Linked DNA regions of Homo sapiens: region 2 is linked to region 1. Evidence: fine-mapped expression QTL. A gene starts in region 1. The other region holds a variant in brackets. All regions are shown on one strand. Distances are between the middles of the regions.

Region 1 (8,935 bases):
GCCTCAGCCTGGCGAGTAGCTGGGATTACAGGTGCCTGCCCCCACGCCCAGCTAATTTTTGTATTTTCAGTAGAGATGAGGTTTCACCCTGTTGGCCTGGCTGGTCTCAAACTCCTGGCCTCAAGTGATCCCCCTGCCTCAGCTTCCCAAAGGTGCTGGGATCACAGGCACAAGCCACTGCGCCCGGCCGAAGGTGGTTTCTTTTAAGCAATACATTTGTATTGAGAAAAACAAGTTCTTGGCCGGGCGCGGTGGCTCACGCCTGTAATTCCAGCACTTTGGGAGGCCGAGGCGGGCGGATCACGAGGTCAAGAGATCGAGACCATCCTGGCTAACACGGTGAAACCCCATCTCTACTAAAAAAAATACAAAAAATTAGCCGGGTGTGGTGGCAGGCGCCTGTAGTCCCAGCTACTCCGGAGGCTGAGGCAGGAGAATGGCTTGAACCCGGGAGGCAGAGCTTGCCATAAGTCAAAATCAGGCCACTACACTCCAGCCTGGGTGACAGAGCAAGACTCTGTCTCAAAAAAAAAAAAAAAAAAAAAAAAAAAAAAAAAAAAAGAAAGAAAAGAAAAAAGGAAAAAAAAAGAGAAAAACAAGTTCTTTTAAATCTCTAGGTAAAAATAAAATAATTTCTCACACACAGCCAAGTCAACTGCATACCAGAGTACCAAGCATAGTTTCCACATCAGAGGCTTAAGCTCTGGGGTAAAAGCATTTTCTTTAACCAGGTGTCTGTTAATTCACTCATATCAAAGAGAAAACTTGGCTGGGTGTAGTGGCTTATGCCTATAATCCCAGCACTTTGTGAAGCCAAGGTGGGTGGATGGCTTGAGCCCAGGAGTTAGAGACCAGCCTGGGCAGTATGGTGAAACCCTGTCTCTATTAAAAAAAAAAAAAAAAATGGCCGGACGTGGTGACTCATGCCTGTAATCCCAACACTTTGGGAGGCCAAGGTGGGTGGATCACGAGGTCAGGAGATTGAGACCAGCCTGGCTAACATGGTGAAACCCCATCTCTACTAAAAATACAAAAAATTAGCCAGGCGAGGTGGCGCGCACCTGTAATCCCAGATACTCGGGAGGCTGAGACAGGAGAATCACTGGAATCCGGGAGGCGGAGGTTGCAGTGAGCCAAGATCGTGCCACTGCACTCCAGCCTGGGCGACAGAGCGAGACTCCGTCAAAAAAAAAAAAAAAAGGCTGGGCGCAGTGGCTCACACCAGTAATCCCAGCACTTTGGGAGGTGGGCAGATCACGAGGTCAGGAGATTGAGACCATCCTGGCTAACATGGTGAAATCCCGTCTCTACTAAAAAATAGAAAAAATTAGCCAGGTGTGGTGGTGGGCGCCTGCAGGAGAATGGTGTGAACCCGGGAGGCGGAGCTTGTAGTGAGCCGAGATCTTGCCACTGCACTCCAGCCTGGGTGACAGAACGAGACTCCATCTCAAAAAAAAAACTATCCAGGTGTGGTGGTGCAAGCCTGTAGCCCCAGCTGTCAGGAAGCTAAGGTGGGATGATCGCTTGAGCCTGGGAGATTGAGGCTGCAGTGAGCTACAATTGCACCACTGCACGCCAGCCTGGGCAACACAGTGAGACCACATCTCAAAAAAAGAAAGCAAAGAAAACTCTTCATTAGAAACTGAACATGCTCGCTGGGAATGATATTCAGGGCACAGGGCAATTCCTTACAGGGGCACACACCCAAGGGCACTGCTGCCACCACATGGGAAGTTGTGACGGGAGGGAGGAGACTGAGGGCAGGACACAAGACATGGAGACACACATTCTGGTCTGTCTGACCATGGAGCTCTGTCCACACCCAGGCTGCCTGCTGGCTCCCAACCACCACACACAGTATCTGGCGTTTCTCACAGGTGTCGGCTTCTCTCTCTCGAGTCCATCTGCTGGCCGTGGACCTGGCTATTCGGGGCAGGCCCATCCTGCCCACCTCCCCACACTCTCTCAAGCCTCTGTCTCTGAGCACTGCAGGTTTTGTAGTGTTCCCTCGTCTACCTCTGAGAGGCCAGGCTGACTGAAGAGCTCCTGAGAAAGCCACCAGGACCCACTGCTAAAGGGGTTGGTCCAGGGTCATTGCCAGGCTGGGATCTGAGGTCCCCACACATAGGGCAGGGAACTCCCCAGCCATAGACTCTGATGGGGGTACCAGTGTGGACTCCAGCCCTTTACACGGAGGAGGGAGCATGCCACTATGGATGCTGAGCAGCAGGAGGTCAGGGGCCCCGCTTTCACAATGTGCCATCCCAGAAGCCCCACAGCCAGGATCTGGACCTCTCTGACACAACTCCAGGTCACAGAGACCCAGATGTCAGGGATGGAGGGACTTGGGCACCTGCCTTGCTATTAGCTCCAAGGCTGCTGGCTTCATGTCACAGTCTGTACAACAGCTGGTGGCATGAGCAGGGCTAGGACCAGCACTCAGCATGACTTCCTAGAACTCTAGGGACTTAGGGGCTGAGGACTTCCCAGGGTGAAAGACCATACCTGGGACAGCCTGGCCAAACAGGGACAATTGATCACCATGGAATCAGTGGACAGGCCCAAGAATGGATGGGCACATGAGGTCACCCAGGATCAGGCAGGTTCCACTGAAGGAGGCTGCAAAAGATATATCCAATGTCCTAACCCCGGAACTCTCAGAATGTGACCTTATTAGGTCTTTGCAGACATAATTAAGGATCTTGTGATGAGATCACCCTGAATAACCTGGGTGTGCCCTAATTCCAATGACAGGTGTCCTTATGAAGGAGGCAAAGGGAGTTCTGACACGGAGAAGAGTGGTCCATGTGAAGATGGAGGCTGATATTGGAGTGATGCAGCCACACTCCAAGGAACACCCGGAGCCGCCAGAAGCCGGAAGAGGCAAGGAAAGACCCCCACCCAGAGCCGTCAGAGAGCACAGTACTGCTGACACCTTGATTTCAGACTTCTGGCTTCCAGGACTGTGAGAGTAAATTTCTGTTGTTTTAAACTGCCCAGTTTGTGGTAGTGTGTTATAGCAGCCACAGAAACTAATAGAGACTGGTCTAGCACCCTCGACAGAATGTGTGTGTTGTAAGGGGCTCTCCTGATCCCTAGTGATGGGGAGTCAGAGGACTGCTTAGTGTCTGAACAGAGGGTTGGGGAAGCTGGGTTGTCCTGAAGAACCAGCAGTCCCCACTTGGCAGAAAGGGACCCTGAACTTGTGGGAGGTGGGGGCTGAGGGGCACCTGCTAGCCATGTGCTAACAGCATCTTCGGATTGGTCCCCAGATGCCCTGCTCCCAGGGGTGGCTCCTCTGCTGCAACAAGAACCTGCCTCCCAGCACCAGACACAGCAGGTGGGAGCTGTGGACCATGGCCGAGTCTCTTCGTCTCCTTGATCTGCTCCCAGGATGCACTGTCCAACTATCCCACCTGTAGGTGGGTGGCATTCCAGCCATGGACCCATGATCTGAGGCTGAGCACAGCAAACACAATCGAGGCTCTGGGTCCCAGGTCCCAGGAGCCCGTCCTTGATGGTGCATTACAGCTCTCCCAGGCTGTTCTTACAGTGACCTCCCACCTGCCCCAGGTGAGCATGCTTGCACCTGGGTGCTCGCCCAGCCTTTCTAGTTGTCCTTAGGGCTTCTGGTGTTGGGAACAGGATGCAGAGTTACCAATTTAGGGGGACTGAGAGGTTAACGTGGCCAAGGCTGAGCCCTGCAGAACTGCAGAGCAACAGCACACACAGGAAAGCTAGTGAGGTTCAACATCCTCATGGAGGTTGCACACGGCACAATGAGGTCTTATTTGCCCAAGAGAATGTGCAGGGAAGTCGCCAGGCACGGTGGTGCATGCCTGTAATCCCAGCTACTCGGGAGGCTGAGGCTGGAGAATCGCTTGAACCCGGGAGGCGGAGGTTGCAGTGAGCCGAGATCGCGCCACTGCACTCCAGCCTGGGCAACAAGAGCGAAACTCCGTCTCAAAACAACAACAACAACAACAACAACAAAAACAGAATGTGCAGGGAAGTCAACGTTGGTGGCTCTGAGGTGTGGAGGACACAGGCTAGTGCCCAGCTCAGCGTGGCTCCACCTCTCTGAGCCACAGACCAACCTCACCCACACTGACAGTCCCAGGGGACACAGACTCTAGCCCCTATGTCCAATTCTACACTGTGCACGCAATGGGAAGAACAGTGCATCATGCACTGTACAGCAGAAGAAATGTCCTCTGAGTGCAGGCACAGCTCCCTTCTGTGTCTGTCCTCCCGACAGTGCCTCCACCCTCAAGGATTAGCAAGCTTCAACCCTCGCAGGACATCCACTGTGTCAGGGCCAAACGGTGCTGCATCCTGCTCTAATAGTGAGTGAAGGAGGGGACCGCAGACAAGAAGAAATGAACAAGAGACCGTTTAAGAGAGAAAAAGACGTGAAGAACATCAGACAGGGAGCAGCGCGAGGGCGCCAGGGAGGGAGGCAGCGGATTCTTCGGGCCTCTGTGAAGAGGGGGCATGAAACCGGTCTGCAGACAAGGAAAGAGCAAAGTGCAAAGGCCAGGATGCGGGGGCAGAGACGGTAGGGAGGCCGGCGTCGGCCTCGGCTAGCAGGTGGGCTTGACTCCGAGAGCCGCAGGCCGCCAGGATGGGTCCCGGGCCTGGAGCCTCCCCTCGCGGGCTTCAATGACACCCAGCACGGAAACGCGGGGGCCAGAACTACAGAAGCCCGTCCCGCCCGGAACTCAAGGTCGCGAGTGCTGTGTGGCCGGTCCGGACCCGGAGCGCGAGGACCGGAAGTGCGCGGCGTCACGCCTCTGCCCCGGACCCCGCGCGCGGAGGTGGAGAGGGGACTGGGGTGGTGGCCGCGCTATGCGCCGGGAGGTCCCCGCCTCGCAGGCCGAGGTTGCGGGTCCGCGCAGAATGCCACTTACTCTCTGGAGGCGGCCCGCACGGGTCCCTGGTCCCCGCCCCGCATGCAGCGCGGAGCCGTCCTCCCGCCACCTCCGGGCCGCCGCGGCACTGAGGGACCCGGGCCACAGCAAGCGCAGGCGGGAACCCGCGCGGGGACTGCTGGGAAACGTAGTCCCGTCATGTCCCGCTTTGACGCTGCGGAGAAAGCGGTGTAGGGAGAGGCTTGGGCTTCGGTTATCATAGAAACAGAGGCCGGCTACACCTAAAAGGCGGGGCGTGGACCTAAGTCGTCGCCAAAGAAACGGCGTTCTGGACGGGGACGTAGGGTCCCGCCCATTCCTTCTCGTGAAAGCGGGTGACTGGTCATGATTATGATTGATAGCCTCCTCTCCCAATCTGATTTCTAAGAGGTCCCAACCCGGAACCGACTTGCGGTTCGCAGGCTCCCCTCGGGTGGGAGAGTTGGGCTGGGAAGCACCTGGGGAGCTCTGAAGTGTCTTGGTGAGCGCGTTGCGAGTCAGACCGATAACATCAGAATCTGGGACTGGGCCCGAGCATATGCGCGTCAAAACTCCTCAGTTAAGTCTATTTTTTTGTATTTTTTTTGGTTTGCTTTTTTGAGACGGGGTCTCGCTCTGTCGCCCAGGCTAATGCAGTGACACCATCACGGTTCACTGCAGCCTCGACCTCCTGAGCTCAAGCGATCCTCCTACTTCAGCCTCCAGAGTAGCTGTTAACAGGGGCGCGCGCCACCACGCCCGGCTAATTTTCTTTCTTCTCTCCCTCCCCCTCCTTCTCCCCCTCCCTTCCTCCTCCCACTATGTCGCCCAGGCTGGTCTCGAACTCCTGTACTGAAGCGACCCTCCCACCTCACCCTCCCGAATAGCTGGGACTATAGGTGGGAGCCACCATGCCTGGATAGTTTTTTTATTTTTATTTATTTATTTATTTTAGAGATAGGGTCTCCATATGTTGCCCAGACTGGTCTGGAACTCCTGGGCTCAAGCGATCCTCGTGTCTCAGCCTTCCAGAGTGCTGGGAGTACAGGCTTGAGCCACTGCGCCAGGCCCCTAGTCCGGCTCCTAGTTGATTCTAACACGTGCGGCCCCATTGGGGAACCACAGCCTCCCCAGCCCCTTTGGGTGTTGCTGACTCTACGGGCCCTCCCAGGTAGGATGAACTGGTCACGCCTCCTACCCATTTGTAACCCCCAGCTCTTGCCCCCATCTATTGTGTGGCTCCTGCCCTCAATAGGGACATCTAATTTTGTTGGCCAGTCCAGCACATATATTGCATGTAACGACCCAGTTTGCCCCACCTTTCTGCCTCCACTGCATCTGCTTCAGGGATGCTGGGACTGTTCCACTCCCTTTCTCCATCCTTTGGGTGTCTGCACATCGAAAGCCTTGTCAGGAGGTCTATCTCCCTGCCCAAGTACAAAACTCAGGGCTTACCAAGCTAATTGAGGGCGAGCAGGAGGCTGAAGGGCACTTGGAGGGCTGCCCGCCTTGTGGGTCCCTTGGTGGCTGAAGAGAGTTGCACAGGAAGGCCTTGACAATTGTCACAGAGAAAGGAGTGCAGCTGCTGGCTCTGTGTGGGTGTGCAGATGTCTGACAGGTTCAGCCACTGGCCCCAATTGGGACACAAGTGGGATTTCTTTTTTTTTTTCTTTTTTGAGACAGTCTTGCTCTGTTGCCCAGGCTGGAGTGCAGTGGCCGCGATCTCAGCTCACTGCAACTTCCGCCTCCCAGGTTCAAGCAGTTCTCTGCCTCAGCCTCCCGAGTAGCTGGGATTATAGGTGCCCACGACCTCGCCCGGCTAATTTTTGTATTTTTAGTAGAGATGGGGTTTCACCATCTTGGCCAGGCTGGTCTTGAATTCCTGACCTCATGATCCACCCGCCTCGGCCTCACAAAGTGCTGGGATTCAGGCATGAGCCACTGCACCCGGCCTGACACAAGTAGGATTTCTCACACCTGTGGATGCACTGCTACTGGAGGAGTCTTGAGCCTATGTGGAAGAACTTCCCACTCCCAGGCACAGAAAGGGCCTCCCTCTGGAGTGAAGATTCTGGTGGTACCACAGGCCTGGCCACCACACAAAGGCCTTGTCCCTGCAGGGCTGGCATGGGGTGACTGGCAGCCCTGGAGTGGAGTTTGAAGCACCAATGAAAGGCCTAACCACTTGGCAGGCACAGGTGCGGGGGACTTGTCTGGAGGGGACCGGCTATGGGGGCTGTGACAGTCTGTAGGCTTTCTTCACTTCTACACAAGCCTGTTGTCTAAGTGGACCCTGCAGGGTTCATGCAGGGGCAGCACCAGAGAAGCATCTTGTGACAATGGTTACACAGGAGCGATTTCAGGAATGAGACTGAATCAGGCAAGGACCTGGAGAGGAAGCTCCAGTGGGGCTCCCACCCAAGGGGTCCAACTTTACCAATCCCACAGGTCCCCAGTCTGGGGCTCATTCTATGTCTGTAGGCCTGGGACCCTGCACCCAGGAGAGTTGTCCTGCTACCGGCCATCCCTCCGCAGAGGTCCCCCTCTGGCTCTATGCTGTCTTCAGCAAAGGGCCTCTGCTCCATTTCACACCTCTCCTGAGGGCCTGGGGTAGCTTACTGCGAAGCAGCCTCAGGGAATAGAGGCTTCAGCAGGGCATCTTGGCCCCCAACACAGAATCCTGGTTGTAGGATCTGGAAGAACAGAGGAGAAATGGAAGTTGGCAGTTCCCAGGAGGGGAGAAGGTGCTGGTGAGCCACGAAAGCAAACCCCAGTGGCTGAAGCATCCTGGATGACTCGGCCACATTTCCTTAAGAATCTTTGTGTGTGTGTGTGTGTGAGACGGAGTCCCATTCTGTCACCCAGGCTGGAGTGAAGTGGTGCGATCTTGGCTCACTGCAACCTCCACCGCCCAGGTTCAAGTGATTCTCTTGCTTCAGCCTCCCGAGTAGCTGAGACTACAAGCGCCCGCCACCACGCCTGGCTAATTTTTTTGTATTTTTAGTAGAGATGGGGTTTCACTGTGTTAGCCAAGATGGTCTCGATCTCCTGACCTCGTGATGTGCCCGCCTCGGCCTCCCAAAGTGCTGGGATTACAGGCATGAGCCACCATGCCCGGCCCTCTTCTGTCTCTTATAAGGACACTTGTCATTGGATTTAGGGTCCACCCTACTAATCCTAGATGCTCTCATCTTGGGATCCTTGACTAAATTACATCTGCAAAGATTTTTTTCCAATAGGTCACATTCGCTGGGTCTGGGTATTAGGGCATGAACTTACCTTTTTGGGGGCCACCATTCAATCCATTACAGGTGGGCATCCCATAGAAGCAGACAGTGGCTAGGCCAAAGTAGCCCATGAAGTATCAGCCATGGGCACAAGATCAAGTTTGGGATGCGGCAGGGCCAGGCTTGGCTCTGCCAGGCAACTGGGTGGACTGAATCCAGCACACTCCAAACGAGTTGATAATCAGGCTGGGGACTTCAACAGACAACCAAGGTGCCAGTAAAGGCATTAAGGAGCTATCACGGCCAGGTGCGGTGGCTCACACCTGTAATCCCAGCACTTTGGGAGGCCGAGGCAGGCGGATCACGAGGTTAGGAGATCGAGACCATCCTGGCTAACAGTGAAACCCCATCTCTACTAAAAATACAAAAAAAATAGCCGGGCGTGGTGGCGGGCGCCTGTAGTCCCAGCTACTCGGGAGGCTGAGGCAGGAGAATGGCATGAACCCAGGAGGCGGAGCTTGCAGTGAGCCAAGATTGCGCCACTGCACTCCAGCCTGGGCAACAGAGTGAGACTCCGTCACAAAAAAAAAAAAGGAGCCATCACAAGGATGTAAGATCAGCTAACAGTAAGACTGTGGCTGGTAGGGTGGACAGGCAAAGTGACTGCCTGGAGAGTGGGCAGGTGGCCCAGCAGGGCCCAGAGGGTGCCTTCCCAGAAGTGAGGAGTCCAGTCTGGGGCCGGCCACTCAGGATGGACACAATGTACCAGAAGTGAGGTAGATCTCTGCAGAGTCTCTGGGGTCCTCATCCAGTCTGAAG
Region 2 (8,467 bases), 520 kb before region 1:
CCAAAGTGCTGAAATTACAGGCATGAGCCTCTGCACCTGGCCTTCATTCTTTTCGTATTGCTTAGAATATGACATGCTGAACCAGGCATGGTGGCTCATGCTTGTAAACCTGATGCTTTGGGAGGACAAGGTGGTTCATTGGAGGCCAGGAGTTAGAGATCAGCCTGGGCAACATAGCCAGACCTCCTCTCTACAAAAAGAAAAAAGAATGACATGCTTCTTGTTTTTGTCTGTTATAAATGAAACTGCTATATTTGAATGCAGTTGTTCATGTAGGTATGTTTCACTATGGTAATATGGTGGTGTGCAGTGCCTGAGTCACGTGATAGATTAAAGTACAACTCTTTTTTGAGACAGAGTCTCACTCTGTCACCCAGGCGGGAGTTAGGTGGCATGATTTCGGCTCACTGCAACCTCTGCCTCCCAAGTTCAACTGATTCTTCTGCCTCAGCCTCCCGAGTAGCAGGGATTACCGGTGTGCACCACCATGCCTGGATAACTTTTTTTTTTATTTCTATTAGCAATGGGGTTTCACCATGCTGGCCAGGCTTGTTATGAACTGACCTCAAGTGATCTGCCTGCCTCAGCTTCTCAGGTGTGACCTACTGTGCTTGGCCTAATGTACAACTTTTTAAGCAATGCCAAACTATGACTTAAGAATGAAATTATTGCTCATTTGTATATCTATCTACCATCAGTGTCCAAGAATTTCTGTTCTATCTTACCAAGAGGGAGTATGGTTAGTATTTGAAATTGTTTATTATTTTAATAAGTGGTTATAACTTTTGAGTCAGTGGTTTATGTTTTGCATTTTTTTTGTTTTGAGACAAAGTCTCGCTCTGTCTCCCAGGCTAGAGTACCGTGGCACAATCTCAGCTCATTGCAACCTCTGCTTCCTGGGCTCAAGCACTCTGCCCACCTCAGCCTCCAGAGTAGCTGGAAATACAGGTATGCACCACCACAACTGGATAACTTTTGTATTTTCTGTAGAGAGGGTTTTACCTTTTTGCCCAGTCTGATCGCGAACTCCTGGGCTCAGGCGATCCACTTGCCTAGGCTCCAAAAGTGCTTGGTCTACAGGGGTGAGGCACCCTGCCTGGCCTCACCTGTAGGCTTGTTTTTTAAAATGAATTTTATCTATTTCCCATTTCATTAATATATTTAAAAATAATGAAATAACAAAGACGTATGTTGGACTTCATTCATTCTTCAGTGATGTCACTTTGCTGCAAGGAATATTTGGTTTTCTTTTTTTTTTTTTTTTCCAGATGGAGTCTAGCTCTGTCTCCTAAGCTACAGTGAAGTGGCATGATCTCGGCCCACTGCAACCTCCACCTCCTGTGTTCAAGCGATTCTGCCTCAGCCTCCTGAGTAGCTGGGACTACAGGCATGTGCCATTATACCTGGCTAATTTTATTTATTTATTTTAGTAGAGATGGGGTTTCACCATGTTACCCAGGCTGCTCTCTACCTTCTGAGCTCAAGTGATCCACCTGCCTCGGCCTCCCAAAGTGCTGGGATTACAGGTGTCAGCCACTGTACCTGGCTGAATACTTGGTTTTCAGTACCACAAGAACTATGAGCTGGTTATCCACTTCATGTGGAATCATAAGCGTCCCAAAGTGACAATACATATAGATTGCCAGGCAGTGAAACAGTTAAGATGCCACCATAGCTTTCTTTTCAACATCTTTCTAAGATTACCTTACTATTTCTTTTGTTCCAAGTTTGTACTTCCTCACAGTTCTCACATATGGAAAGGATACACACTTTGTAGAAACAAGAACTTTATGTTATCCAAGTTCTAGGATAGCCATGAGCTCCAATTATCTCAGAGCTCTGAGTCCTCTACTCAATACCCATTGAGATTTATGTGTTCTGAGGCTTTTGTCTTCTAGCTACTTACTTCATTCTCCATGGGTAACGTCATTCATCCACATTAACTAATTTCCTCACTCCAAGCTCTTTTCTAGAGATAATCTCCAGTCCCTGTGCAGAAACTGTCATTGCACTTTCTGCTGAAATGGCAGTTTCTTCTCAGCAAGGTGAGATTATGGAATCCAGAATCTTTTTTCAGGGGTCACATGCCCATTTCCCCACTTGCATGAATGTCGACACTGCAGCCACAGTTTTGGCCGTAAATGTGAATTTGGCAAGTAACCACTGTTCCCAGGGAAATGTCCCAATCAGAAGAAGATTATCTGGGACACTGATACTGACAGGGAGATGGGACATTCTGAGGGACCCGGAGGCAGGGTGCCACCTCCTCAACTTCCCTGAGGGCTGCCTAGAATCTGTTTCCTCTCACTCTGAATTATTCTTCCTCTTATGGCTGACCAAAAACATGGAACCTCACAAAGTCCACTGTAACAGCTTTATATTTGTGAAGTGAAGAACATGAAGACAGTTTCAAGCAAAGTTATTGAGTGGACACTTTGTGTTTTTTTTGAGAAGTCTCACTCTTTCACCCAGGCTGGAGTGCAGTGGCACGATCTCGGCTCACTGCAACTCCACCTCCCGGGTTCACGCCATTCTCTTGCCTCAGCCTCCTGAGTAGCTGGGACCACAAGCGCCCACCACGTCAGCTTAATTTTTTTGTTTTGTTTCTTGAGACAGAGTCTTGCTCTCTTGCCCAGGTTGGAGTGCCGTGTCGCAATCTCAGCTCACTGCAACTTCTACCTCCTGGATTCAAGCACTTCTCCTTGCCTCAGCCACCTCTTTAGCTGGGATTACAGGTGCGTGCCACCACACCCAGCTAATTTTTGTATTTTTAGCAGAGACCAGGTTTCACCATGTTGGTCAGGCTGGTCTCAAACTCCTGACCTCGTGATCCACCCACCTCGGCCTCCCAAAGTGCTGGAATTACAGGCGTGAGCCACTGCACCTGGCCTGTATTCTTTTCTTTAGTAGAGACGGGGTTTTACTGTATTTGCCAGGATGGTCTCGATCTCCAGACCTCGTGATCCGCCCGCCTTAGCCTCCCAAAGTGCTGGGATTATAGGCGTGAGCCAACACGCCCTGGCCACTTCTTGTCTTTGCAACATTTTTTAGATATGTATTTGTGTTTTTTGGGGAGCTTAATTTGCTAATGGAATCTCTGTTATTTTCCTAACATGCTTGGTGGATACAAGAGTTAAGACTTCCTGTCCCGTTTAGTGTAACAAAAGAAAGTTAAGAAATGTGGATAAAAGATTGTAAGTTAGAAATGGCAAGATAATCAGCTATATGAAGAATCTTGGCCAGGTGTGGTGGCTGAGGCCTGTAATCCCACCACTTTGGGAGGCTGAGGTGGGCGGATCACAAGGTCAGGAGTTCAAGACCACCCTGGCCAATATTGTGAATTCCTGTCTCTACTAAAAATACAAAAATTAGTCGGGCATGGTGGCGGGTGCCTGTAGTCCCAGCTACTCGGGAGGCTGAGGCCAGAAAATCGGTTGAACCTGGGAGGTGGAAGGTGCACTGAGCCAATATCACACCAGTGCACTCCAACCTGGTGACAGAGAGACACATCATCTCAAAAAAAAAAAAAAAACTCAATCCATAAATGTTATACTTTATAACTTTATAACAGCATGTTATATGGGCTTAGATATTATCCCTAA[AT/A]TTTTTTTTTTTTTTTTTTTTTTGAGACAGAGTCTCACTCTGTCACCCAGGCTGAAGTGCAATGGCATGGTCTCGGCTCACTGCAACCTCCGCCTCCCAGGTTCAAGTGATTCTCTTGCCTCAGCCTCCCGAGTAGCTGGGCCTATAGGTTCCCTCCACCACGCCCAGCTAATTTTTGTATTTTTAGTAGAGATGGGCTTTCACTACGTTAGCCAGGCTGGTCTCAAACTCCTGACCTCATGATCCACCCCCCTCGGCCTCCTAAAGTGCTGGGATTACAGGCATCTGCCACCGCACTCGGCTTATCCCTAGAAATCCTATGATAGCATGATGTATAGGCACCTAAAGGCATGGCACTTGAGAAATGTGAATAAGATTGTAAGTTACAAATAGCAAGGTACAGTCAGATGTTAACAGTCTCAGCCCCTAAATGTCACCTTGTATTACAGCATGTTATATAAGCACATACAGGCACATACATGAAATAGTGATACTTCATTCTCAGTAATATCTTCATCCTTCTCACTGGAAAGATCTTTGATGATTTTTAATCAACATAGGAGTTTCAATGATATCTAGAAGTTTAAAAGGGCTCGTTCAAACAAATTATGACCACACACACTGAAGAGTATGTTTGTCTCTTGTGGTGTAAATTTTTTTTTATTACACCAAATTATGTTCACACAAAACCTTTGTAATCAGGGGGAATTAAAGAGCCTTCCTGGAAAATGGAGGTTGCAATCAGCCGAGATGGTGCCATCGCACTCTAGCCTGGGGAATAGAGTGAGATCCTGCCTCAAAAAAAACAAAAAAATTCTTTATTTTCTCCATAAACTACAGTTTATATAAGCAAAAGTTTCAGTACTAAGCAATTTTAGTCTCTGCAGTCTCTTGTCTTGAATTAATACAACTTTTGTTAATTCTCTTATGAAGTTAATCTTCCTGCTTGTATGTGAATTAAATATATGTCAAACTTTTTTTGTACAAAAGATTCATACCTCTTTCCTGTTTGAAATTATTTTACTGTGTTTCATCAATCTAATGTTTATTTTTATTACACCAGTAATTTCCTCATTGTGTTGAATCTTACAGTGGCTTATAAATCTACATGTACCTAGAAATGTTTAGCCAGTCCATGTATATTTGATGTGGCACATTTTTTCCTTTGAATCACATACTCTAAGAGAAGTAACTTCCTCTTGCTAACCTCTACTTTCCCTAAGTGTTGAATTAATCCTCTTTAGATGATTATAATTCTCTTTTCAATAGCTAGAAAGAATCTATAAGGAACTTTCCTGGCTGGGTGTGGTGGCTCATGCCTGTAATCCCAGCACTTCAGGAGGCCGAGGTGGGTGGATCACGAGGTCAGGAGTTCCAGACCAGCCTGACCAACATGGTTAAACCATGTCTTTACTAAAAATGCAAAAATTAGCACCTGTAATCCCAGCTACTCAGGAGGCTGAGGCATAGAATTGCTTGAACCTGGCAGGCAGAGGTTGCAGTGAGTTAAGATCGTGGCACTGCACTACAGCATGGGCAACAGAGCAAGACTCTGTCTCAAAAAAAAAAAAAAGAAATCACAGTCCATGTCTGAGGGGTGTACATTGCTTATCAATTTGGAGAGAAAATAATAGATAATGTAATACAATGTTAAAATAGATTAAAAATTGAGATAGAAAAACTGCTCAATTTATGCTTCACATAAAATTGAAAATTAAATCAAGCCTACACATAAAGGCATTTTTTATATATATACATATATGTGTGTGTGTGTGTATATGTACACACATATATACGTATATATGTGTGTACATATACACACACACACACATACTTTTTATGTTATTTTTGGAGAGAATCTTGCTCTGCTGCCCAGGCTGGAATGCAGTAGCATGATCATGGCTCACTGCAGCCTTGACCACCCCCAGGGTTCAAGTGATCGTGCCACCTCAGCCTGCTGGGTAGCTGGGACTACAGACAGGCACCCTGCCTGGCTAATTTTTGCATTTTTTGTGGACACAGGGTTTTGCCATGTTGCCCAGGCTGGTCTCAATCTCCTCGGCTCAAGTCAACAGCCTGCCTCTGCCTCCCAATGTGTTGGGATTACAGGAATAAACTACTATGCCCAACTCAAGATTATTTTTTAAATGGTTTATTTTCTTAGTAAATTGGGGTGCACAAGTCATTAAAAGCAAGGATTAAATTTAAAGGGAAAAATTTGTTTTACTTTTCTACAGAAAATTAAAACCAAAGCACATTAAAAGTGACAACACGGCCGGGCACAGTGACTCACACCTGTAATCCCAGCACTTTGAGAGGATGAGGTGGGCGGATCACAAGGTCAGGAGATCGAGACCATCCTGGCTAACACAGTGAAACCCCATCTCTACTAAAAATACCGAAAGTTAGCCAGGTGTGGTGGCACGCACCTGTTGTCCCAGCTACTCAGGAGGCTGAGGCAGGAGAATGGCATGAACCCAGGAGGCGGAGTTTGCAGTGAGCCAAGATCAGGCCACTGCACTCCAGCCTGGGCGACAGAGCGAGATTCTGTCTCAAAAAACAAAAAAGCAACAACCCAAGATGGAAATGACAAAAGTTACTTAAAATGTGCAACATAAAAGGTAGTCATTTAGGCTGGGTGCAGTGGTTCATGCCTGTAATCCCACTTTGGGAGGCCAAGACAGGTGGGTCACTTGAGGACAGGAGTTCGAGACCAGTCAGGCCAATACCGTGAAACAGTCTCTACTAAAAATCCAAAAATTAGCCGGATGTGGTATCATGCACCTGTAATCCCAGATGTTCGGGAGGCTGAGGCATGAGAATCGCTTGAATGCAGGAGCAGAGGTTGCAGTAAGCTGTGATCATGCCATTGCCCTCCAGCCTAGGCAACAGAGCTAGATCCTTGTCTTAAAAAAAAAAAAAAGGAAAGGAGTCATCTATAATTTTACTACTTATACAGATTACATTGAGATAAATCGCAAAATATTAGGCAAAACTTTAAAACAATTTTTAACTATCCAGTATATCAAAGAGAGATGCCACACATTGTATTTGTTTGCAAGAATGTCATTGTGATTACAAAACTGACCACTAACCATTCAGTTGAAGTTGATTGAGAACTTAAAACTATTTCCGTCTATGGCCATACCACCCTGAACGCGCCTGATCTCGTCTGATCTCGGAAGCTAAGCAGGGTCGGGCCTGGTTACTACTTGGATGGGAGAACTTAAAACTATTTCCTTTTTTTTTTTTTTTTGAGATGGAGCCTCACTTTGTCGCCCAGGCTGGAGTGCAGTGGCGTGATCTCGGCTCACTGCAACCTCCGTCTCCTGGGTTCAAGTGATTCTCTTGCCTCAGCCTCCCAAGTAGCTGGGATTACAGGTGTGTGCCACTAAGCCCAGCTCATTTTTGTATTTTTAGTAGAGACAGGGTTTCACCATGTTGGCCAGAGCCACCGCATTATTTTTCAGCCAGGTGCAGTGGCTCACACCTGTAACCCCGCACTTTGGGAGGCCAAGGTGGGTGGATCACCTGAAGTTGGGAGTTTGAGACCAGCCCGATCAACTTTGAAGAAACCGTCTCTACTAAAAATGCAAAAACCTAGCCGGGCGTGGTGGCACGTGCCTGTAATCCCAGCTACTCGGGAGGCTGAGGCAAGAGGATGGCTTGAACTCAGGAGGCAGAGGTTGTGGTGAGCCGAGATCACAGCACTGCACTCCAGCCTGGGTGACAAGAGCAAGACTCCGTCTCAAAATAAATAAATAAAAATAAAAAATAAACATGATGATCACAGATGCAGTCACATTTTCTGAGTTCTTGTCTCTCTGCCAGTGCCACCCAGATAGCCTCACAAAACTTTGACCCAGCCACTGTTAGTGTCGCCACCGCCCATAAAGGAGCTGAGCCCAGCAGGGGCACTGCCTGGGGCCCTGTAGCCAAAAGGCTACAGCAGGAGCTGATGACCCTCATGATGCCTGGTGACAAAAGAATTTCTGCCTACCCTGAAAGCCTTATCAAATGGACACCATCCATGAAGCAGCTGGCACAGTGTATGAAGATCTGAGGTATAAGCTCTTGCTGGAGTTCCTCAATGACTACCCACCTTTACGATGCACCCACAGTGAAGTTCCTCACACCCTGCTACCACCCTAACGTGGACACCCAGGGTAACATATGCCTGGACATCCTGAAGGAGAAGTGGTCTGCCCCGTATGATATCAGGACCATCCTGCTCTCTATCCAGTGCCTGCTAGGACAACTCAACATTGATAGCCCTTTGAACACACATGCTACCAAGCTCTGGGAAAACCCCATAGCTTTAAGAAGTACCTGCAAGGGTCAGGCGCAGTGGCTCACACCTGTAATCCCAGCACTTTGGGAGGCCGAGGTGGGTGGATGGATCACCTGACGTAGAGAGTCCAAGGCCTGACAAACATGGAGAAATGTCATCCCTATTTAAAAAAATAAAAAAATTAGCCAAGTGTGGTGGCGCATGCCTGTAATCCCAGCTACTCGGGAGGCTGAGGCAGGAGAATCACTTGAACCTGGGAGGTGGAGGTTGCAGTGAGCCGAGATCTCGCTATTGCACTCCAGCCTGGGCAACAAGAGTGAAACTCTGCCTCAAAAAAAAATAAAATAAAATAAAAATAAAAATAAGGAAGTACCTGCAAGAAAGCTACTCAAAGTAGGTCACCAGCCAGGAGCTCTGACCCAGGCTGCCCAGCCTATCCTTGTGTTGTCTTTTTAATTTTCCCTTAGATGGTCTGCCCTTTCCGTGATTTCTGTGTAGAACTCTGTATCTTGAGCTGTGGTACTATTTTTCTTTTGTCTTTTAATTTAAACCTTGGTGGAGCCCTTGTGATGA

Alleles and levels. Alleles are on the strand shown, and positions count from the first base shown. SD is a standard deviation of normalised expression in the study named.
For the expression in prefrontal cortex of the gene that starts at base 5,000 in region 1, A is the high allele of the variant in region 2 and AT is the other (large effect, 1.4 SD a copy in CommonMind).

The links.
Region 2: its variant is fine-mapped to the expression of ZNF837 in prefrontal cortex (CommonMind, PIP 0.95).

Annotation. Positions count from the first base shown.
Region 1 is chr19:58,376,031-58,384,965 of GRCh38, forward strand. It overlaps ZNF837 (zinc finger protein 837), which reads right to left and starts at 5,000. Exons shown (of 3, transcript NM_138466.2): 1 at 4,911-5,000. It overlaps LOC105372484 (a long non-coding RNA gene), which reads left to right and starts at 1,553. Exons shown (of 2, transcript XR_936130.2): 1 at 1,553-2,079; 2 at 2,755-2,995. RefSeq lists enhancers at 3,724-4,265, 4,082-4,311, 4,266-4,807, 4,342-4,401 and a silencer at 4,752-5,261.
Region 2 is chr19:57,860,526-57,868,992 of GRCh38, forward strand. It overlaps ZNF587 (zinc finger protein 587), which reads left to right. Exons shown (of 3, transcript NM_032828.4): 3 at 1-4,592. It also overlaps the pseudogene UBE2CP5. Among named protein-coding and RNA genes, the nearest start is that of ZNF587, 15 kb to the left of the region's middle. The variant AT/A (reference allele first, on the strand shown) is at 3,603.